3 linked regions of the Homo sapiens genome follow. The protein of the gene in region 2 interacts with the protein of the main gene of each other region in a pairwise test. Each region holds a gene or a part of one and is shown on either strand. Other genes may lie near its edges.

Region 1 (7,076 bases), on a different chromosome or scaffold from region 2:
AAGATATAAGGGTGAGGGTGGAAGCAAGGAGAGTGGACCTGACCCCAGGTTCAGGCCCACTCTCCTTGCCTCACAGGTCAGTGATTCAATCTCCCCCACAGAACAAGAACCCTGCGTGAAGCCATGAGCAGATTGTGGAGATTTGGGAACAGGAATGAGACAGTGATTCAGACCTAGCTGCCAACCAACCCCACAAAAGAATGAAAAAGAACCCCAGCATCAAAATATGATTAGTTATGTCTGTTGAGGTAAAGGAATGTCTAGGGCCTCTGGCCTTGCATGTGAGGTAAAGGGCACACATATTTGTAAGCCAGGCTTAAGGAGTCCCTGGGCTCCCAGACACCACCCATGCTCCAGCCATCTCCTCACCTCTCCCAGCCTCCGGATCTCATGCTGCTTCTTGGGCCTGACATGTTTCCGGAATGGAGCTGTTAGTCGGGAGCTCTGGCTGGGGTTCTCCAGGAATTCTGAGGGGGTCTGAAAGCCAGGCATCCGGGTAAAGGCCAGGGCACACGCCGTGGACTTCAGGGCCAGCAGGGTGAGTGGCCACACTGACCTGTACCTGAGATAGTCCAGCCGAGGCCTCCAGTGAATAGTCCCATCACATCTGAGTGCAGCAGTTTACAACCCGAGGCCCAGGAAGACCTTATGAGACTCTCTGAGCAATATGCTCACTGCAGGGCTTAAAGCCTTGAGTTCCCCAGCACAGGGACCTTCTAGCCCATACCTGACGACCTCCCCTTCCCCAGGCATCCCCAGCAGCATTGTGGCCAGCTGTGGTGGTTTCAGTCCATCCAATGCTTCCTGCCATGAGCAAGGGAGTGTGTCCCATAGGTTGTCTGTGAAAAATTCCTACAGAAGAAGGGGAGAAGCCATCAGCAAGCTACTACCACTCCCATTCTTTCCCACACCACTCTCAACTACACACCTCATTGCCTGCCTCTTCCCAGCACTGCTGCCACATAGGGCCACTGCCTGTAACTGGCAGGTACCTCCTGCTAAGCCGAGTCAGTTCTCTGAAGCCTGCTCCAGCCTCCCCGACTCTGGTGGCTTAACTCTGTTTCCCTGGAGTCCAGATTGCATTCTGGACACACTTCTTTTAGCAATTTCTGCACTTATTTGTGTCTGTTTTCTCTATTAAATTGAATTTCTTAAGGGGAGGGATGGGATGGTATCTTCACATCTGCATCCCTAACACTTACCAGAGTGACTGACACACAGTATTAGTACATTACCACTTAGTAACCTGCATTATATGTGCCAGACACTGGTGTCTTTTTATTCATTCGTCCACCACAAATTCTGGGGCTGTGTTTCGGTTATACATCAAGCTCTATTGTAGGCTCAGGGAATACAACAGTGAACCTGAGACAAGATTCTGGCTCCTGCAGAGTTTACATTAAAAAAAATAATAACTTTGGCCGGGCATGGTGGCTCACGCCTGTAATCCCAGCACTTTGGGAGACCAAGGCGGGCAGATCACCTGAGATCAGGAGTTCGAGACCAGCCTGGCCAATATGGTGAAACCCCGTCTCGACTAAAATTACAAAAATTTGCCAGGCATGTTGGCACACGCCTGTAATCCCAGCTACCCAGTAGGCTGAGGCAGGAGAATCACTGGAACCCTGGAGGCAGAGGCTGCAGTGAGCCTAGATTGTGCCACTGCACTCCAGCCTGGGCAGCAGAGCAAAACTCCCTCTCAAAAAAAACAAACCAAAACAAAACTTCAGACAACATCATATGTCATATAGACAAAACACTAATGAAACAGTAATGTAATGGAGAGTTTGGGCAAGGACTACTTTAGATAGGATGATGAGGGAAGACCTGTCTGAGGTGACATTTGAGCTGAGACTTGAATGATGAATAGGTGCTAGGCATGTAAAGAAAATACAGGTAATAGCAAACACTTATTTAACACCTTCTCGGCCAGGTACTGCTGTAAACATTTGACATGTATTAATGCATTTGATCCTTTAAACAACACTTTGAGGTAGGTATTATTTTTTATCCCCCATTTTACAGATGTAGAAACAGGCACAGCACTTAAGTAACTTGCCCACGTCCAAAAGCTAGCAAATAGCTGAGCTGGGATTATTTATTTATTTTTAGAGATGGAGTCTCACTCTGCCACCTAGGCTGGAGTGCAGTGGCGCGATCTCAGCTCACTGCAACCTCCGCCTCCCTGGTTCTAGCAATTCTCCTGCCTCAGCCTCCCTAGTAGCTGGGACTACAGGTGTGTGCTGCCAAGCCTAGCTATTTTTTTATTTTATTTTATTTTAGTAGAGACGGGGTTTCACCGTGTTGCCCAGGCTGGTCTCAAACTCCTGAGCTCAGGCAATCCACCCACCTCGGCCTCCCAGAGTGCTAGGATTACAGGTGTGAGCCATCGTACCCGGCCTGAGCTGGGATTTGAAACCAATTTTACTCTAGAGTCCTTGTTCTTAACCATTCTGCGATTGCCTTTCTGTGGCGGAAGAGCAGTGAGTGCAAAGGTCCAGATGCCTGCCATATTGGCAGAACAGAAATCAGGCCAGCAGAGGTATAGCACAGTGAAATGTGTGAGAGAATAAAATGGGATAGAGTTCAAGAGACAGTAGGAGCCAGAATATGGGTTTTATAGGTAATAGTAAGGAGTTAGGATTTCATAAAAGTATCTAGGAAGCAAGGGATTGTCGTGATCAGATTTACATTTGAATGCTATCAATCTAGCTGCTCAGTGAAGAATTGGTAATGGCAGGGCAGAGGTAAGCACACAGCAAGATCGGTTAGGAAGTAGTTCAGAAGAGAGGTGATGGTGGCTTGGCCTAGGGTGGCAGCAACGGAGGTGGGGACAAATGGATGAATTTGGGATCTATTCCGAAGGCAGAGCCAAGAGGACTTGTTGAAGAACTGGATTGTGGATCAATGAAGGACAGCACTGAATCAATGATGGCCTCTGGGTTTGTGGTCTAAACAATTCAGTGGATGGTGGTGCCATTTACACATTCTCTCATTTATTCTTCACAATAATCCTTCAGACTGGGATCCATTGTATAGCTGAGGAAACCCGGACTAGGACAAGTTGGGGGTTAGGGAGGCCTAAGGTTAACATCATAGGGGAGGCAGGATTCTAGACTAAGCCTTTTTGATTCCAGAGCCAGGACTGTCTACTATACCACAAAACCACGAATTTATTCAAAGCTTGGATGAATAACGTGTGTTCTTGGAACACCTGACATGCTCCAAGAAGAGTTCAACATAGTTGCAGCATGGTTCCAATGTCCACGCATTTTATTACCTTGGATCTGGGAAGATTACAAAAACAATCTAGGTAGGTACTAGAAATATTATTTATGCAGTGAGCCGAGATCGTGCCACTGCACTCCAGCCTGGGGGACAGAGCGAGACTCCGTCTCAAAAAAAAAAAGAAAAAAAAAAAGAAAAAGAAAAAAAAAGAAATATTATTTATGTCAGCTGAAAAAAAAGGAGGGATCACTCCAGTTTTAACCCCTTCTTGTACAGAAAAAGACTGAAACTCATAGAAGGAAAGAGATCAGAGGCTAATTCTCCAGATTCTCTCCCTGACGTGGGCACCTAGCCAACCACACGACCAGAGACATCCCACCCACGCCCCTGTGGCCTCACGATGATGTAGGCATCCAAGATGGAACGGTAGAGTGCCAGGACACGGGTGAGGTTAACAGCTAGCTGCTTCCTCCCCTCATGAGAGAGGCCTCGGGCGGAGATGCCCGGCATCCCGGGGTCCAGCAGGGAGCGCGGGGAGCGAGAACGCAGTGAACAGGGATCCAGGGTCAGTACTACGCGGGTCCAGGACCCGGACGGGGCTCAACTCTGCAGGCAGAACAGGAAGAGTTTTGGGTCCAGTCTCCGACGCTGCCTTTCCGGGATCCGATGCTGGAGTGGAAGATTTGAGGCGCCCCCCAGACGTCACAGGTCGCGACGTTTCACAGTGAGAAGGTGTCAGCGTCAGAGACACGTAGGGCGGGGTAACAGTGCAGTGACGCCACAAAAGCGTGCCGCTGAGCTCAGCTCACAACGAGGCGGGCCAAGTTCCAGTTCCCGCCCCTTGCCGTACACTCCTCTCCTCTTACGGAAGTGAAGCCGGAGGTGTCCGGCGGGCTGCAGTTCCGGTTTATCGCGGCCTTCCCACACCTTCGCGTTGTACCACCACGGGGCTAGAGGGGCCGGGGAGCGCATCCCGCCCCCGCCCCCACCCACGCCGCCCCCTCCTCCGCCGCCACTGCCGCTCCTCACACACTCGGAATCACTGGCCTCACTACCTGGGGTCGGGGCGGTGCGGGTGTGCGCGCGCCGACCTCTGGCGCGTTCTAACCCGCGCGCCTGCCTTCCCGGGCTTCGTCGGCGCGCACCGATTTCCGCATCCGGCTCCGGACGCTTCCGGTCTTAGCTGGACCCGTCTGGGAGGTAGGTTTGTGAGCGTGAGAGATCGATCTGTACCGCGGGGATCCGAAGTATGCTTATCCAGGTGGGCTGCCTCAAGCCTCGATCCCACCCCCGCGCTGGTAGATGGTGTCAAGGTCCTTGCGTGGGAGAAGGACTTGGGTGAGATGCATGCGGAGATTGCCCCCAATTCCGGCCTGGAGCCAAGGGAAAGGGATGCCTGGATTTGTGTCTCTATTGGTGGTCCACGCTGCGGATGCCTGGGTAGCCCAGAGGTTATCTACGCCATACTTCTCACTGTTTTTGAGCATACCTAGATGTTCCTTTCCTAGGCGGAGTATAGATCGCACGTGTTCTAGCCTCTTAGACTCAGAGGGTTCGAGCTCTATAAGCCCCTCCACTCCCTTCATTTTACAAATGAGACTCAAACCTAGAGCGCGGTAATGACCTTACTAAGACCAAATGGCTGGTGAATTGGGCTTCACTAGAATCCAGGCTTGCTGGCTAACACCAATGCTCCCTCCATCATTTCATGTTATGTTTTCATTTCCCCTCTGTCTGAGAGATTGCTCTGATGTCTTTCCTTCCATAAGTCCTACGGAGATCGAGCTTACCTCATTTTTCTCCCAGGCCTAGGAGCTCAATTACCAGGATCACTTTCTTCCCCAGGGTGTACTACAGACCTCCACATGTTGGACAGTAGGATTCAGCAGAGAATGAGTCCCACATCCTCTTTTCATCCATAAGCCACTCTTCCCAACTACTCTTCCGCCTTCCATTGTCCCTATGTCTACTTTACTGCTCAATCTGGATTTTGGGGAACCTCCTCCCAAAAAGGCATTAGAAGGAAATGCCAAGCACCGAAATTTTGTCAAGAAGCGGAGGCTCTTAGAACGGAGAGGCTTTCTGAGTAAAAAGAACCAACCCCCTAGCAAGGCGCCTAAGTTGCACTCTGAACCTTCAAAGAAAGGGGAAACTCCTACGGTCGATGGCACTTGGAAGACCCCTTCCTTCCCAAAAAAGAAGACAGCTGCTTCCAGCAATGGGTCAGGACAGCCCCTGGACAAGAAAGCTGCAGTGTCTTGGTTGACCCCTGCCCCTTCAAAAAAGGCTGATTCTGTTGCTGCTAAAGTAGATTTGCTGGGGGAGTTCCAGAGTGCCCTTCCAAAGATCAATAGCCACCCAACCCGCTCTCAGAAGAAGAGCTCCCAGAAGAAATCCTCTAAAAAGAACCATCCTCAGAAGAATGCCCCACAGAACTCCACCCAAGCTCATTCAGAGAATAAATGCTCCGGAGCATCCCAGAAGTTGCCACGGAAGATGGTGGCAATTGACTGTGAGATGGTGGGCACAGGACCAAAGGGGCATGTTAGTTCCTTGGCTCGATGTAGCATTGTCAACTACAACGGAGATGTGCTTTATGACGAGTACATTCTTCCCCCCTGCCACATTGTGGACTACCGAACCAGGTGGAGTGGTATCCGGAAGCAGCACATGGTGAATGCCACACCCTTCAAGATTGCTCGAGGCCAGGTAAGAAGCATGGGGCTTGATGGTGGCAGGGAGGTGGATGGAGAGAGGTCTAAATCATTTTTCAGCAAAGGATATCACTATGGGAAGACACCAACGTTTGTGGAGGGAGGGAGGAGAATCTATCAGTTGTTGAAGAAGGCCCCCTGTCGGTGGAAGAAGCAGTGAAAGTCAGGAAGGTACAATTAGCTGGTGTCACAAACTTCATTGGTCAAGATCTATTTTAGCCGGGCGCAGTGGCACTTGCCTATAATCCCAGCACTTTGGGAGGCTGAGGCGGGAGAATCGCTCAAGCCCAGGAACTCAAGCCCTGTCTGGGCAACATAGCGGAACTCATCTACAAAAAAGTTAGCCAAGTGTGGTACATGCCTGTAGTCCCAGCTACTCAGGAGGTCGAGGCTGCAGTGAGCTGAGATCACACCACTGCCACTGCACTCCAGCCTGAGCGACAGAGTGAGATCCTGTCTCAAAAAAACAAACAAAAAAACTATTTTAGGTTCTAAATTGGGTCTGGGGAACTGGGAATCTGCATAGAAAAATAACAGCAAGTGATGAAACTAGACAGAGCTGCAGACACCAGTGTCAGGAGAAAGGGCTTGATTTGGAAAAACCTTGCGAGTTGGAGCCTAAGCTTGAGAGAGGAAAGGTGGAGAGCTCGTCCCAAGCAAAAAGTAGCCTGGGGCAAGTGCGGAAAGTGGTGGTGGTAAGAGAGGGCAGAAAGTTGACAGGAGGAGCTGGGGTATATATTGTCCAACTGGAACAGGTAACCAGTGAACGGCATAAACGGCACAGGGCCGGCACTTCGGGTTGTCATCTCACTCCTAGCCCTGTGCTGGCCATGGAGCGCAAGGCATGAACGGAAAGGAGAGTGAGCTGGGAGGGGTGAAAGAGGAAGTGAAGGGAGAGCAAGAGACCTGCTGGTCTCAGGAGGCCGCCAGAGGGCGCCCTTGGTCCACGTCTTTGCAGTTTCAGGTCCACACTCTGCCCTCTCTGGACACGCTGTTCCCATAATGCCTTATATGCGGTCAGTTGGAGGAGGTTCGTTAGAGGTGAGGTGACTGACTATTTTAGAAAAGACGGAAAGAAGAGTTAAACATCTTGTGCACAAAGGGGCGCAGCCAAGCAAAGGCATAGGAGAGGCA
Region 2 (7,162 bases):
TCTCATGTACTTAAGTAAACAGAATATCAAAAGCAAACAAGATGCAAACTTTTGTTTCAAACTGTTTATTTTTATGTTACTTTTTTCCCTAGGATATCAATTAGAATGACAGAAGGGTAAAAGTTTCTCTTTTATACTGAAAGGCTAGAGAGGATAAAGCATTTGTTTTCAGGTACGCTGGGCACTGAGGTATCTTACTGAAATCTTTGTTCTTTTTGTAGAAGAAGGCTATGTAAAAATGTTTCTTCGTGGACGCCCTGTTACCATGTACATGCCCAAAGATCAAGTGGATTCTTACAGCTTGGAAGCAAAAGTAGAACTTCCAACCAAGAGACTCAAGCTGGAATGGGTGTATCCTTTATTCATTGATTAGGTCTCACATGAAGTTATCAGTCAATCAATGCTTGATGTTAACTGTAGAAATTCATAAAACTTAAGTCCTCTTAAGCTTTTAAAAAACAAAATGTTTTACTGTTACTTTTGAAAACTTAATGTAACAAAATTGACTATATGTTAGAGACCTACAGAGTTCTAACAAAGTAGGAGCTTCATAAGAGCGGCTTATTATCAGGAGAACCAACTTATCATTCCTGAACGAAATAGCTGTGGTTCTGGCTCAAATACATGTTCATTATTTTGCTGAAAAGAAAATATGAAGATGTTATATGATTGTATGAGTGATTTTTTTCTTTGTCAGGAGAAAATGAATCACTAGTTTCTGGTCCGAATTTTATTCTTTCCAAAAGAATGACAATAGTAGTTAGAAATATATAAAGAAGTGAACAGTGAAAATAATCAAGAATGGGTAGAATTTTAGATTCTAATGAGAACTGATTTTTTTTTAAGAGATAGTCTCTCCCTATGTTGCCCCAGCTGTTCTTGAGCTCCTGGACTCAAGCAATCTGCTCGTCTCAGCTTCCCAAAGTGCTGGGATTATAGGCATGAGCCACCATGCCCAGCCAAAAGCCAATTATTTTTAACAGGAGCTATCATATACTTAGTCAACTCTTCAGGGACAGATGGAAAACTAGGCACTCTCTATATTTATAAGGAAACAACAGTGACAATGCAAGAAAATATTGTCCTTATGATTGAGGAAATGGGAGTATCCAAAATTGAAACTAAACCACATTGGCAAAAAAGTTTTTAAACCCAAAGAAAGAGGGGTACTCTGAAAGGAGGACTAGCATTCTCCCCTTAAACCAAGTATGGACTTGGCCAGCCTTAGGAGCCAAACTTCAAGTGTGACCTTGACTGAAGGGATGATAGAAAAATATGAATACCAAAGTACTGAATGAAGGGAGTCAAGTGAATGACGTAAATGAAATTGACATATCACGTAGATATCATCCTACTTTAAAAAAAAAAAAACTAGCTACAGGGATGCATCCCTGTAGTCCCAGCTGTTCAAGAGGCTTAGATGGAAGGATCCAGGAGTTCAAGTCCAGCCTGGGTAACTTGGCAAGTCCCTGTCTCAAAAATACATATATTCATATCAATCAAAAAGGCTCCCCAAAAATCTAGGCCACAAAAATCTGAATCAACCATATAACTAACGTTCTTGAAACAGAGGTGCTGGTAGCTTCATGGCATGAGGTTTGGAAAAGTGAGCTTCCAGGGGAAAAAACAACTGAAAGATAAGAAAATAGAAACTGTGAAAAAGGTGAATTAATTGTTGATTATTTTTCCATTTTCTTATTACTTTAGAGGAATCCTGCAGAGACCACCTTTCAGTCTATGCAGATTTTAAGGGAAAAAAAAAATTTTTTTTCACCTTCAAATATTTGAGTACCTGTTTAATGCCAAGCCTGGAACACAAATTATAAGATGTTGGTTTAAATTTAAGCTATTGTGACTTCATTTAGAATAATTACTATTTGAGATTATGGAATCATATTCCTTAGAAATTTTTTAAAATTACCACCTGTACCTAAATTTCTCCCCCAAAATACTTTTTTTTTTTCCAGATTCAAATGTCATAGGCATTTACCTGCACCTGTTTTGGAATCTATCTTGATACATGAAATTGAAGTGCTTCAGCTCGTCTTTAAGTCAGTAGTGGTTTATTAAACGGTTATATCACATCTGGAAAACATTATTCAAAACATTTATTCAGCCTACTTCCTGTTCATATTTTAGAAGATGTAAAGCAATGAAATTTGCTCTAAATAAATGGCATTTTTTTGGCCATTATTTGGCATCTTGCCGGGTTACTTTTTACATCCAAGTTGAAGTGATATTTTGTTCTCAAAATAAAATAATTTTCAAGGTTTGGAAATATAATGCAAAAATTTTAACAGGGATTCTTATCCCAAAGGATCTGAGGGGCCTGATTTTTTTTTTTTTACCTTTTATGTATGTTTGTGTGCATGTGTGTGTGTCATTTGTACCCTTTGTAAGTACTTTTACCATGTTTAAAAAAGGAATTTTTTAGTAAAAATTTAGCTCGTAGATTACAGTAAAAAAATTAATAATTGACTCAATAGCTTTCTAAAAATAAAACCAAATCATTGTGAAAATATGTATTCACATTACATCAATGACTGTTTCAACTTTACTGCATGCCTTTTGGGGGTCACATGTATTTGTCATGGAATATTTGCAATTTAATGTTGTTTAAATTAGTGATGCTGATGGTAATAGTTATATGGTATTTTATTGCCTGTGCCTGTTGAATAAAGCTGATGTTTTGTCAGCTCTTAAAGGGAAAAAAAATTTTATCTTGACATCCACAAAGCTATGGGTACAGGGGTCGAGACTGCCGTAACAACCTGTACTTGCTTCCGACGGGAGAGACCGTCTACTTCATCGCATCCGTGGTGGTGTTATACAACGTGGAGGAGCAACTGCAGAGGCATTACGCTGGCCACAACGATGACGTGAAGTGGTAAGTCCTGAAACAGGTCATTCCTGCGACTCAGAAGGCGAAGGTAGGAGGATCGCTTGAGGCCAGGAGTTCCAGACCATCCTGGGCAACAGTGAAACCCTGTCTCTAAAATAAATAAATAAATAAATGTGATTCCTGTTGCACAGGTGGAAATAGCATTAGCAGAACACGGTCAGTATTGGGACATAACTAAAGAGAAGGAAGAGGGTCTGAGGAAATGAGGTCTTTGGGAGAGCTCTTCTGTGTGGTCTCCTTGTGGTCCGCTCACTACTGCGCTCCGTGAGACCCCTCTCATGTTTAATTTTCCAGCCTCACCAACGCATGAGCTTCACGGACCACATTGTCTCAACAAACAGCGCCACCTCTTTGGAGGCCTTCTTAACACATCATGTATTAAAGGCTTCTAATTTGGGTCTTTATTTTTTGATAAACATAAAAATGTGTTGCCTCATGTTTGTGGCTGAGTCGGCTCTTCCCATAATTCATTTATAGCTTTTGGTAGGCATATTACATATCTTGGAAGGATGGATGCGTGAAGAGATGGATTTATATATTTGTATTTGTCCTGGTTCCTTGGTCAATGATAAAAATCCTGTTCACGAAAGATGGTATCTTTCCTATTTATGTACTCAACATGACTTTTTAATAAAGATTGTAGACTAATGTAGTGGTTCTGAGATTGAAATGGTATTTTCCCAGCAGAGGATGCTTTTTCCTTCAGTTTGAAAATTCTTAAGAAGAAATAAGGGAATTAAGATGAAATGAATTAGGTACTAGTTGTCTAACGTCGTGGTGCTCAGAGAATTTGTCATGAGTCTGTAAGAAGTTAGGCATTATATATTTCTTATATTTAAATTTTTGACTAGATTATATTTGAGCAAGGGAAAAGTAAAACTTACCTGCAACATGTAGATGTTTTGTAAATATCCTTTTCTTAGCCTAGCAGTTCATCCTGATCGGATCACGATAGCAACAGGACAAGTTGCGGGCACATCGAAGGATGGAAAAGTGAGTTACGTTACCTTTTCATTGTTTCATAATGAACTGGTAACACAAAGTAATTTTTAGAAAACATTGTGCTGCTGAGTAAGGCTGCTTAGATATAATTATGGTATCTGAAAACTTCTGAACCCCTCACTAGAATTTTTTATTGTAAATTAGAAGACTTATTGTGTGGCAGGGTGCGGTGGCTCACGCCTGTAATCCCAGCACTTTGGGATGCCAAGGCAGGCTGGATCTCTTGAGGTCAGAAGTTTGAGACCAGCCTAGCCAACATAGTGAAACCCGTCTCTACCAAAAATACAAAAATTAGCCAGGCGTGGTGTCACATGACCGTAGTCCCAGCTACTCTGGAGGCTGAAGCAGGAGAATCACTTGAACCCGGGAGGCGGAGGTTGCAGTGAGCCAAGATCATGCCACTGCACTCCATCCTGGGTGACAGAGAGAGACTAAGTCTCAAAAAAAAAAAAAAAAAATACTGACTGTGACCTTAAAAATCCCTGGAGCTCATCTTAATTTCATCAGATTTTTAAATAGCATTGTTCTGAACAAAGAATTCGCTAATTCTTAAAATGTTTATTTATATGATAAGTATTAAAAATATGAAGGTAAACATTTAATAAAGTTAAAATTATAATAATAATTTGAATGTACAACATTTTGCCAAATTTCAGCCACCCTCTGCCCTGTCCTGTGAATGTCGTTTAACAGTCGTGACTTTAACCCGTGAAGTTTGTGTCTGTGTGCAGTCACAAAAGCTACTAGGAGGTTTTTAGCACAGATTTTGCAAGCACTTCAGCAAGACTTTAATTTGCATTTTAAGGCGTTAGAGAGGGAGCTTGTAGCTTTTTTGATATCTACTTTTATATAGCTTGTTATTGCATAATATTTTATCTGAAACTAATTTAAGTACATACATTTTATCAACATGTTTTCATCCAGAAAAAATGAATACTACCATATTTCAGAAAATATTTTAGTAACATTGGATTTTAAATATTAATCTTATGCTATTTTCCATTAATTTTTTTTTTTTTCTTGAGACAGGGTCTCACTCTGTCACCCAGGCTGGAATGCAGTGGCACAATCACGGGTCATTGCCACCTCTGCCCCCACAGGCTCAAGTGATCCTCCCACCTCAGCCTCCTGAGTAGCTGGGAGTACAGGCACACGCCACCTCGCCCGGTTAATTTTTGTATTTTTGGTAGAGACAGCGTTTCACCACATCGCCCAGGCTGGTCTCAAACTTCTGGGCTCAAGCGATCTGCCCACCTCAGCCTCCCAAAGTACTGGGATTACTGGCGTGAACCACTGCGCCTGACCTGCATTAATATTTTATACTTGAAAAGAGTTAACAGAAATAATGGAAATCAGACCACTATTATGTAAATAAATTTACTTAAATTGAATGGGTCTTTCAATTTTTTTTTTTTTAATGTTAAATGGCTTTGAAAAATTCTTTGAAATTAGTGGTAAGCTATTTGTTCCTCCCTCTAGTGGCTTAAAAGTATATTTCAGTTTCTGGCATTGAAATTGAATCGGTACTTTAGAACTAGAGAAAAATATTATAGTTATCTTTCAGTTTACCCATAGAGAAATCCAGAGAGGCCTAGTGAATGCCCGCGGACACCCAGCTGCTTAGAGATTAGACTGAACTAGAACTTGGTTCACCTAACGCCTGCCTAGTGTTTCTACTAGGTCCAAGGCCAGCACCTTTTCTTACTGATAAATCTACTGATTGCTCTATGATGTTTTCTTCTATTAAGGAAGAGAAAAATTAGCGTAAATAACCTAGGAACACAGTTGAGAGGATTTTAAACCAATTATAACAATTCTAAATCTTATTTGTACATAATTGATGCCTGTTTTGCCCAAGAATATTAAGCTCTTTTTTTTTTTTTTTTTTTTTTTTGAGACAGAGTTTTGCTCTTGTTGCCCAGGCTGGAGTGCAGTAGTGCAATCTTGGCTCACTGCAACCTCCACCTCCCGGGTTCAAGCGATTTCCTGCCTCAGCCTCCCAAGTAGCTGGGATTACAGGCATGCACTACCACGCCCGGCTAATTTTTTGTATTTTGTAGAGACAGGGTTTCACCATGTTGGTCAGGCTGGTCTCGAACTCCTGACCTCAGGCGATCCACCTGCCTCAGCCTCCCAAAGTGCTGGGATTACAGGCGTGAGCCACCACACCTGGTCTGTTAAGCTCTTAATATTATTTGGTGGTGACCATCTTATGAATTTAGGCATGGTGACACCTTAGCAACAAAACAGACTTTAAAAGAATAACCCATATGTGAGATTCCATTTTACTTGTCATTTTTCATTTCTAAAATTCAGACACATTTAGATGCACAAATTAAAGTGTCAGTTCCCATGGTACTATTGTCAAAAATTGGCCATTCAAATTCTAAAACTTGGTAGACCTCTCCTTACTGTTAAATTATCAACAAGGCCCTCCACCTCCTGAAGTCATCGGGAATGTTTTATTTACATAAAAAGGCAGACTCCTGAAATGCAGAAAAAGATCTTTTGTTTTGACAAAGTCCGAGTTACTGCCCAAGTAATCTTGTAGCTTCAAGGTAAAGACACATGTGTATCACCATCACAATTGATGGCTCTGTGTTTCTTTTCTGAACAGCAATTGCCCCCACATGTGCGCATCTGGGATTCTGTGACATTGAATACTCTCCACGTCATTGGAATAGGTTTTTTTGACCGAGCAGTCACCTGTATTGCATTCTCAAAATCTGTAAGTATGTGCCCTGTGGATATTGCTGTCTTCTTCCACAGGAAGTAGAGAATCAACTCAGGGTTGAAGAGGGGGAGTTGACACACTCGATACCTGCCTGGGTGTATGTACAGATTTGGACTCTGAAACATTCCTGCTTCCCAGAACCCCTCAGTCAGAGGTCATATGCATGTCTCATCAGGGACACACACTTCCTTCCAATCAGACATCTCCAGCCACATGGGTTTGGTGATGAAAACAGGCCCCCAGAGATATCGTCCTCACTTTCCTTAAGGCAGTTTATGTGCTCTGGCCTTGAATTTCACCTGCTTCTTTCAAGGGTGGCTCCAGCGTGTCTGTCTCTGCCATCCTGCTACTGGAAAGGGGTCCCGATCCAGACCCCAAGGGAGAGTTCTTGGATCTCTTGTAAGAATTCAAGGCAAGTCCATAGAGTAAAGTGAAAGCAAGTTTATTAGGAAAGTAAAACACTAAAAGAATGTCTACTCTATAGAGCAGCCCTGAGGTCTGCTGGTTGCCCATTTTTATGACTA
Region 3 (7,162 bases), on a different chromosome or scaffold from region 2:
GAGCCACTGTGCCCACCTAAAACTATTTTGAGTGCTTTAGTATGCGCTAAGCTTATGGCTATTATTCATTAGAATGGCCAGCATGTTAAAAAATCAGCTTCAGGCCAGGCACGGTGGCTCATGCCTATAATCCCAGCACTTTTGGAGGCCAAGGTGGGCAGATCACCTGAGGTCAGGAGTTCAAGACCAGTCTGGCCAACATGGTGAAACCTCATCTTCACTAAAAACACAAAAATTAGCCAGGTGTCATGGTGGGCGCCTGTAGTCCCAGCTACTCGGGAGGCTGAGGCAGAAGAATCGCTTGAACTCGGGAGGCAGAGGTTGCAATAAGCTGAGAGCTCATCACTACACTCCAGGCTGGGTGACAGAGCGAGACTCCATCTCAAAAAAAAAAAAAAAAAAAGCTTCACAAGAGCATTCCTAGGAGTAATGTGTAGCAAAGAGTGAGCTGCGGGAGTTGCCCTTCCCGTGGTCACCACAGCGGCTTCATTGCTGCCAGTGTGAATGTTGGTCCTAGCAAGACTGGAAAGTTGAGAGTAATTCACGTCCTTGTCGTGATCCGAAGAATGTTGTCCACATCAATCCCTAGGCCTTTGCTTCCTGGCTGGACATGGTGTGTGGTTGGGAGTGTCCGCTAAGCAGCACTCTTTTAGAGCAGAAGGCATGTGCCTCAACGATTTCATTTCCCTCCTTGTAAACTGGAACAGCAGATTGTTGCCAAATTTAGCACCTTGAAATGGGTAAGCGTTGGTTGTTTAGGGTGTCTCAGCTGGAAAAAGGCCCTCCAGTGTGGGCGGTAGTGAGCTTTGCTGAAGACTCGTGCCACTCAGCCGCTTCTCATCCTCTCACCACCCCCTCTGCTATGGTTCCCTGACAACTAAGACCCTGAGGCAACCACAAGACTGACACCAGATCTGCTGCAGCCTCAGAATAAAGCCTGGTCCAAAACTCTGCTGTCCTCACCGGTTGCTTCAAGTCGAAGGGATTTCCTCTCCCCTAAAGAAGCGCTCTGCTTCCTGACAAAGATCTAGGAGAGTAGGTGGAAAAGGGGGAGTTTCAGAGCAAGCAAAGATGAAGTTAGTTTTCATTCTAACGGCTGATACTTTATTGTCTATAGCTGACTGATGAAGAGGCCTTCAGGAGAACTTGATAGAATTCTATTCATGTTAGTTGCATTTCAGAACTTGTGACAGATCATAGATTCTTGCTTTGTCACCTGAGTTAGATTTGCTCAGCACTCACTTCTAAACCTCATCTAGGCACTGAAAGAAAAAGAGCTGGGGAACGATGCCTACAAGAAGAAAGACTTTGACACAGCCTTGAAGCATTACGACAAAGCCAAGGAGCTGGACCCCACTAACATGACTTACATTACCAATCAAGCAGGTGAGGCCCAGAAACAAGGGGCAAGGGAATTGTTGGGTGTCTCTGAGGGAGGAAGCAAAGACTGACTGTTCCTTCTTAACCATCCTGCCTGGCAGCGGTATACTTTGAAAAGGGCGACTACAATAAGTGCCGGGAGCTTTGTGAGAAGGCCATTGAAGTGGGGAGAGAAAACCGAGAAGACTATCGACAGATTGCCAAGTAGGCTCAACCTTCCAGAATACCTTGAGTAGCGCGGAGGGTTTGCTGTCCAAGACTTAAGTTTCTCTGCATGGGGAGGAGGGCTGCTGGCCATAGAATCTGCTGTGTTAAGAAAGGGCTGGCAAGAAGGTCACCAGAGACAAGACAAAAGGTGTTGAAGGCAGTGATGCGGGCCTTTCTAGCTGCAGGTGTGTTTTTCTGCAGGAGCTGACTTTATCTCTCTGTCCTAAGCAGTCCTTGTCCCTCTTTCTTTATCAGAGCATATGCTCGAATTGGCAACTCCTACTTCAAAGAAGAAAAGTACAAGGATGCCATCCATTTCTATAACAAGTCTCTGGCAGAGCACCGAACCCCAGATGTGCTCAAGAAATGCCAGCAGGTGCGTAGGAAAAGAATAGGGGTATTTTCTTGTTTTCCTAATAATTGAGCCATTGTTTCTTACTGTTTTATTTAATAATGAACTTGACTTTTTTTTTTTTTTGAGATAGGGTCTCACTCTTTCACCCAGGCTGAAAGACAGTGGCACAATCGTGGCTCACTGCAGCCTCAACCTCCTGGGCTTCAGTGATCTTCCCACCTCAGCCTGAGTAGCTAGGATTACAGGCACGTGCCACCACGTCCAGCTAATTTTTTTTTTGAGATGGAGTCTGTTTGTCACCCAGGCTGGAGTGCAGTGGCATGGTGTCTGCTCACTGCAACCTCCGCCTCCCAGGTTCAAGCAATTCTCCTGCCTCAGCCTCCCGAATTGCTAAGACTACAGGTGCACGCCACTATGCCCGGCTAATTTTTGTATTTTTAGTAGAGATGGGGTTTCATTATATGGACCAGGCTGGTCTCAAACTCCTGACCTCATGATCCACCCACCTCAACCTCCCAAAGTCCTGGGATTACAGGCCACTGCGCCTGGCCACGTCCAGCTAATTTTTTTATTTGTAGAGAAGGGGTCTCACTGTGTTGCCCAGGTTGGTCTTGAACTCCTGAACTCAAGTGATCCGCCCTCCTCAGCCTCCCAAAGTGCTGGAATTATAGGCGTAAGCCACTATGCCTGGCTGAACCTGATCTTTTTTTAGGTAGTGGCTTTGGTCATCTTACATGATTCTTTCTCTGTCATTTAACAGTGACAACATGTAGGAAGTGATCTGGTGTTTTTTTTTGTGGTTTTTTTTTTTTTTTTTTTGCAGTTTTTGGTATTGGCCAAGATTTCAACCCTAAATGTGTTAATATTGAGGGCCTGTGCATTGAGAATGTTAATAGTTCTTGTAACATAACATTTTGACTATTTTATAAAGACTGTAAATTTCTTTTAAAATCTTGCCAGCAATAGCCGGGTGCAGTGGCTCACGCCTGTAATCCCAGCACTTTGGGAGGCTGAGGTGGGTGGATCACAAGGTCAGGAGTTCAAGACCAGCCTGGCCAGGATGGTGAAACCCCGTCTCTACTAAAAATACGAAAAAATTAGCTGGGCGCAGTGGCAGGCGCCTGTAATCCCAATTACTCAGGAGGATGAGGCAGGAGAATCGCTTGAACTCAGTGGGGCGGAGGTTGCAGTGAGCCGAGATCATGCCACTGCACTCCAGCCTGGGTGAGAGTGAGACTCCATCTCAAAAAAAAAAATCTTGCCAGCAATAGCCAGTCGCAGTGGCTCACGCCTGCGATCCCAGCACTTTGGGAGGCCGAGGTGGGCGGATCAAGAGGTCAGGAGATCGAGACCATCCTGGCTAACACGGTGAAACTCTGTCTCTACTAAATAAATAAAAAAAATTAGCCTGGTATGGTGGTGGGCGCCTGCAGTCCCAGCTACTCGGGAGGCTGAGGCAGGAGAATGGCGTTGAACCCGGGAGGCAGAGCTTGCAGTGAGCCGAGATCGCGCCACTGCACTCCAGCCTGGGCGACAGAGCGAGACTCTATCTCAAAAAAAAAAAAGAAAAAAATCTTGCCAGCAATACTCTGAAAATTAAAATCCTAATCTGATTTTTTTTTTTTTTGAGATGGAGTCTCGCTCTGTCACCCAGGCTGGAGTGCAGTGGCGCGATCTCGGCTCACTGCAAGCTTCCGCCTCCCGGGTTCACGCCATTCTCCTGCCTCAGTCTCCCGAGTAGCTGGGACTACAGGCTCCCGCCACCACACCAGGCTAATTTTTTATATTTTTAGTAGAGACAGGGTTTCACCATGTTAGCCAGGATGGTCTCGATCTCCTGACCTCGTGATCCACCCGCCTCGGCCTCCCAAAGTGCTGGGATCACAGGCGTGAGCCACCGCGCCCGGCCCCTAATGTGATTTTTAAGCCCAATATTTAGATGATTATGAGCGTTTAAATTATTATTTCAAGAATTATGTTTTGTAGGCAGAGAAAATCCTGAAGGAGCAAGAGCGGCTGGCCTACATAAACCCCGACCTGGCTTTGGAGGAGAAGAACAAAGGCAACGAGTGTTTTCAGAAAGGTACTGCCTGCAGCTGGGGGATTGGGGGAGCAGTGCTGGGTGTGCCTCCCGTGCCTGGCTGTGGGGTAAATGGCCGGCTACACATGGGGGCTTTTTGCTTTTTAAAAGACAGTCTTTGTTTTTCTTCCCCAGGGGACTATCCCCAGGCCATGAAGCATTATACAGAAGCCATCAAAAGGAACCCGAAAGATGCCAAATTATACAGCAATCGAGCTGCCTGCTACACCAAACTCCTGGAGTTCCAGCTGGCACTCAAGGTGACGAGACCTGTGGGGGCGGCCATTACTGAAAGCCTGCACATGAGGAGTGGGTTTTCTCTCTCTCTCCTCATCAACATTGAGTTGATGATGATCATGATGTTTGAGACAGTGTCTCACTCTGTCCTGCCTCAGCCTCCTGAGGAGCTAGGACCACAGGCTCATGCCTCCACATCCTGCTACATTTTTTATTTTTTTTGTAGAGTTGGGGTCTTGCTGTGTTGCCCAGATTTATAGGGGTGTGTGTGTGTATGTGTGTGTGCGTGTGTAAAATATGGGACCTGTATCTAACTGGTCGTGTGTGTGTGTGTGTGTGTGTGTGTGTGTGTGTGTGTAAAATATGGGACCTGTATCTATCTAACTGGTCCTGGTCCATGGAGTCACTACTGGTTGGCAGTACATTGGAAGGTGGGTCCTTTCACCCCTGTAACCTTCCTCTTTTTTCTTTGTTTTTGCCTTTTTAACCATTTTTAAGAAGTGGAATTGCTGGGTCATGTGGTGTCTGTGTTTACTTTTTTTGTTGGTTTGTTTGAGACAGTCTCACTCAGCTGCCCACACTGGAGTGCCGTGGCACAATCTCGGCTCACTGCAACCACCATCTCCCGGGTATTTTAGTAGAAACGGGGTTTTACCATGTTGGCCAGGCTGGCCTTGAATTCCTGACTTCAGGTGATCCACCCGCCTCAGCCTCCCAAAGTGCTAGGATTACAAGCGTGAACCACCACGCTTGGCCCCCTTTTTTTAAAAAAAAAAAAAAAAAAAGACAAGGTCTGGCTCTATCGCCCAGGCTGGCTGGAGTACAGTGGCACAATCTCAGCTCACTGCAACCTCTACTTCCCTGGCTTAAACCATCCTCCCACCTCAGCCTCCTGAGTAGCTGGGACTACAGGTGTGCACCACTGTACCCAGCTAATTTTTGTATTTTTTATAGAGACAGGGTTTCACCATGTTTTCCCAGGCTGGTCTCAAACTCCTGGGCTCAAGCGAGCCTCCTGCCTTGGACTCCCAAAGTGCTGGGATTACAGGCATGAGCCACTGCGCCCGGCCTATGTTTTATTTTTGAGGAACCACCATATGTTTTTCAGCAGCTGTACCATCCTTGCTTGCTTTTCTGTTTTGCTCAGCTAGGTAGGTCTGCTGTTCTCAGTCATATCAAGTTAGGTCAAATACAATTGTTTGACACTGTGGAGTTCCCATAATCCTCTCGAATCTCAGCCACCCTGCCTCTATCAGCAGTTTTTTTTGACTGTTCTCTAGCTGACAAACCTGGACCGTATTGTGGGAAGGTGACAAAGTGTGACCTGTCTAGAAACAGCCATACCTGGGTTTGTGTTGGTTTTTATATTTTGTGCCACTGTCTTCTGGGTCTGTGTCTTGGCCTAGAGACATCATTTCTACTAGTAGGATTGTGCAAGAGTCATGTCAAAAGCATATTGATTTGTGAGGCAAAGAATAGCAGGTTGTCAATCACCTGGGAGGTGGGCAGTACTTTCCCGATCATGAGAGCGTGGAGAAAGAATGAATGGGATTTCTGCTGCTGTCCCAGCTTCTTGGTGCAAGAGTTGGAATTAATTCCAGGGGAGCTCAGTGTACTGCATAGTGTTCTCTTCCTCATCATTTCTCACTTTGAAGATGTTTCAAAGAGAAGAATACATAGTGAATATCTGGTGTATCTTCCACCTTTATCTGACAAATGTTGACCTGTTTTTGCTGAACTGTTTGCGAAAGGAAATTGTATACATTTGGTACTTAGAATGAGACATCCAAGTCTTGTGCACGCATTGCCTGAAAAGACTCCTGTCCAGTGCAGCACTGTCAGCACACGCGACCTCACCAGACCAAGGCCTGATGCCATCTGCCGTCTGTCCATCCATACTTAGACTTGCCCACTTCTCCAAAAATATGTTTTAAAACTGAGGTTTTTTTATTTTTGTTTGTTTGTTTTTATTTTTTTTTGAGACAGAGTTTCACTCTTGTTGCCCAGGCTGGAGTGCAATGGCGTGATCTTGGCTCACTGCAACCTCTGCCTCCTGGATTCAAGCGATTCTCTTGCCTCAGTCTCTTGAGTAGCTGGGATTATTACAGGTGCAGCCACCAGGCCAGCAAATTTTTTTTTTTTTTTTTTTTTTTTTTTAGTAGAGATGGGGTTTCACCATGTTGGCCAGGCTGGTGTCAAACTCCTGACCTCAGGTGATCCACCCACCTTGGCCTTCCAGAGTGCTGGGATTACAGGCATGAGCCACCGCACCCAGCGTTGTTTTGTTTTTTAGTCAGCAATGGTTTTGGATTCCAAAGCTCTCAGGACCAAGGCCCACGCATTTTGTCTAGTTGTCATGTACTCTTCAGTTTCTCAAACTGGAATTGTCCCCCGCTATGTGTTTTTCATAACATCAGCCTCTTGCAGAGTCCAGGCAGTTTGTCTTGTGTGGGATGATCCATCATCTGGAGTTGTCTTTCCTGATGTTGTCCCCTCTGTTTGGTGCTGGGTGAGGCATTAGAGTTGGAAGTCCACATGCTTGAGTTGCCTGTACTGAGCTTGTCCAAGGGAATGAGCCTAATTTCTTTCTGTTGCTTCATTCTAGGACTGTGAGGAATGTATCCAGCTGGAGCCGACCTTCAGTAAGTGCCTTTCTGCTGCCTGTCCCCTGTCTCTAGCCAAAAGATTAGAGAAGGAAAGGGCAAGCCCTTTGTCTACCTGTGTGTCCTTGGGACCTGTAGGATTTAGGATCCAACATCAGCAGGTGTGAACAGTGTTGGTGTGCAGGTGAAGAGGTGCAAGGAGCAGCCTTGGGCGCTGCGGTTGGATAACGCGCCACCTTTCCTGTTTGTAGTCAAGGGTTATACACGGAAAGCCGCTGCGCTGGAAGCGATGAAGGACTA

Evidence for each region.
Region 1: the proteins of EML1 (region 2) and ISG20L2 interact in binary tests that used the Homo sapiens proteins (3 or more experiments, as listed by UniProt).
Region 3: the proteins of EML1 (region 2) and STIP1 interact in binary tests that used the Homo sapiens proteins (3 or more experiments, as listed by UniProt).

What each region holds. Positions count from the first base shown.
Region 1 is NC_000001.11:156,725,767-156,732,842, reverse strand, and holds the start of ISG20L2 (interferon-stimulated 20 kDa exonuclease-like 2), read left to right. Parts: upstream 1-4,076; 5' UTR 4,077-4,428; exon of another isoform or gene 4,429-5,073; 5' UTR 5,074-5,190; coding exon 5,191-5,937; exon of another isoform or gene 5,938-7,076. Other genes in the region: METTL25B (methyltransferase-like protein 25B), read right to left, coding at 370-562, 728-852, 3,628-3,738. UniProt on the Homo sapiens protein: 3'-> 5'-exoribonuclease involved in ribosome biogenesis in the processing of the 12S pre-rRNA. Displays a strong specificity for a 3'-end containing a free hydroxyl group.
Region 2 is NC_000014.9:99,894,408-99,901,569, forward strand, and holds part of EML1 (echinoderm microtubule-associated protein-like 1), read left to right. Parts: intron 1-221; coding exon 222-351; intron 352-2,737; coding exon 2,738-2,887; intron 2,888-3,825; coding exon 3,826-3,895; intron 3,896-6,521; coding exon 6,522-6,632; intron 6,633-7,162. UniProt on the Homo sapiens protein: Modulates the assembly and organization of the microtubule cytoskeleton, and probably plays a role in regulating the orientation of the mitotic spindle and the orientation of the plane of cell division.
Region 3 is NC_000011.10:64,196,012-64,203,173, forward strand, and holds part of STIP1 (stress-induced-phosphoprotein 1), read left to right. Parts: intron 1-1,259; coding exon 1,260-1,386; intron 1,387-1,481; coding exon 1,482-1,584; intron 1,585-1,842; coding exon 1,843-1,963; intron 1,964-3,928; coding exon 3,929-4,025; intron 4,026-4,157; coding exon 4,158-4,282; intron 4,283-6,864; coding exon 6,865-6,901; intron 6,902-7,113; coding exon 7,114-7,162. UniProt on the Homo sapiens protein: Acts as a co-chaperone for HSP90AA1. Mediates the association of the molecular chaperones HSPA8/HSC70 and HSP90.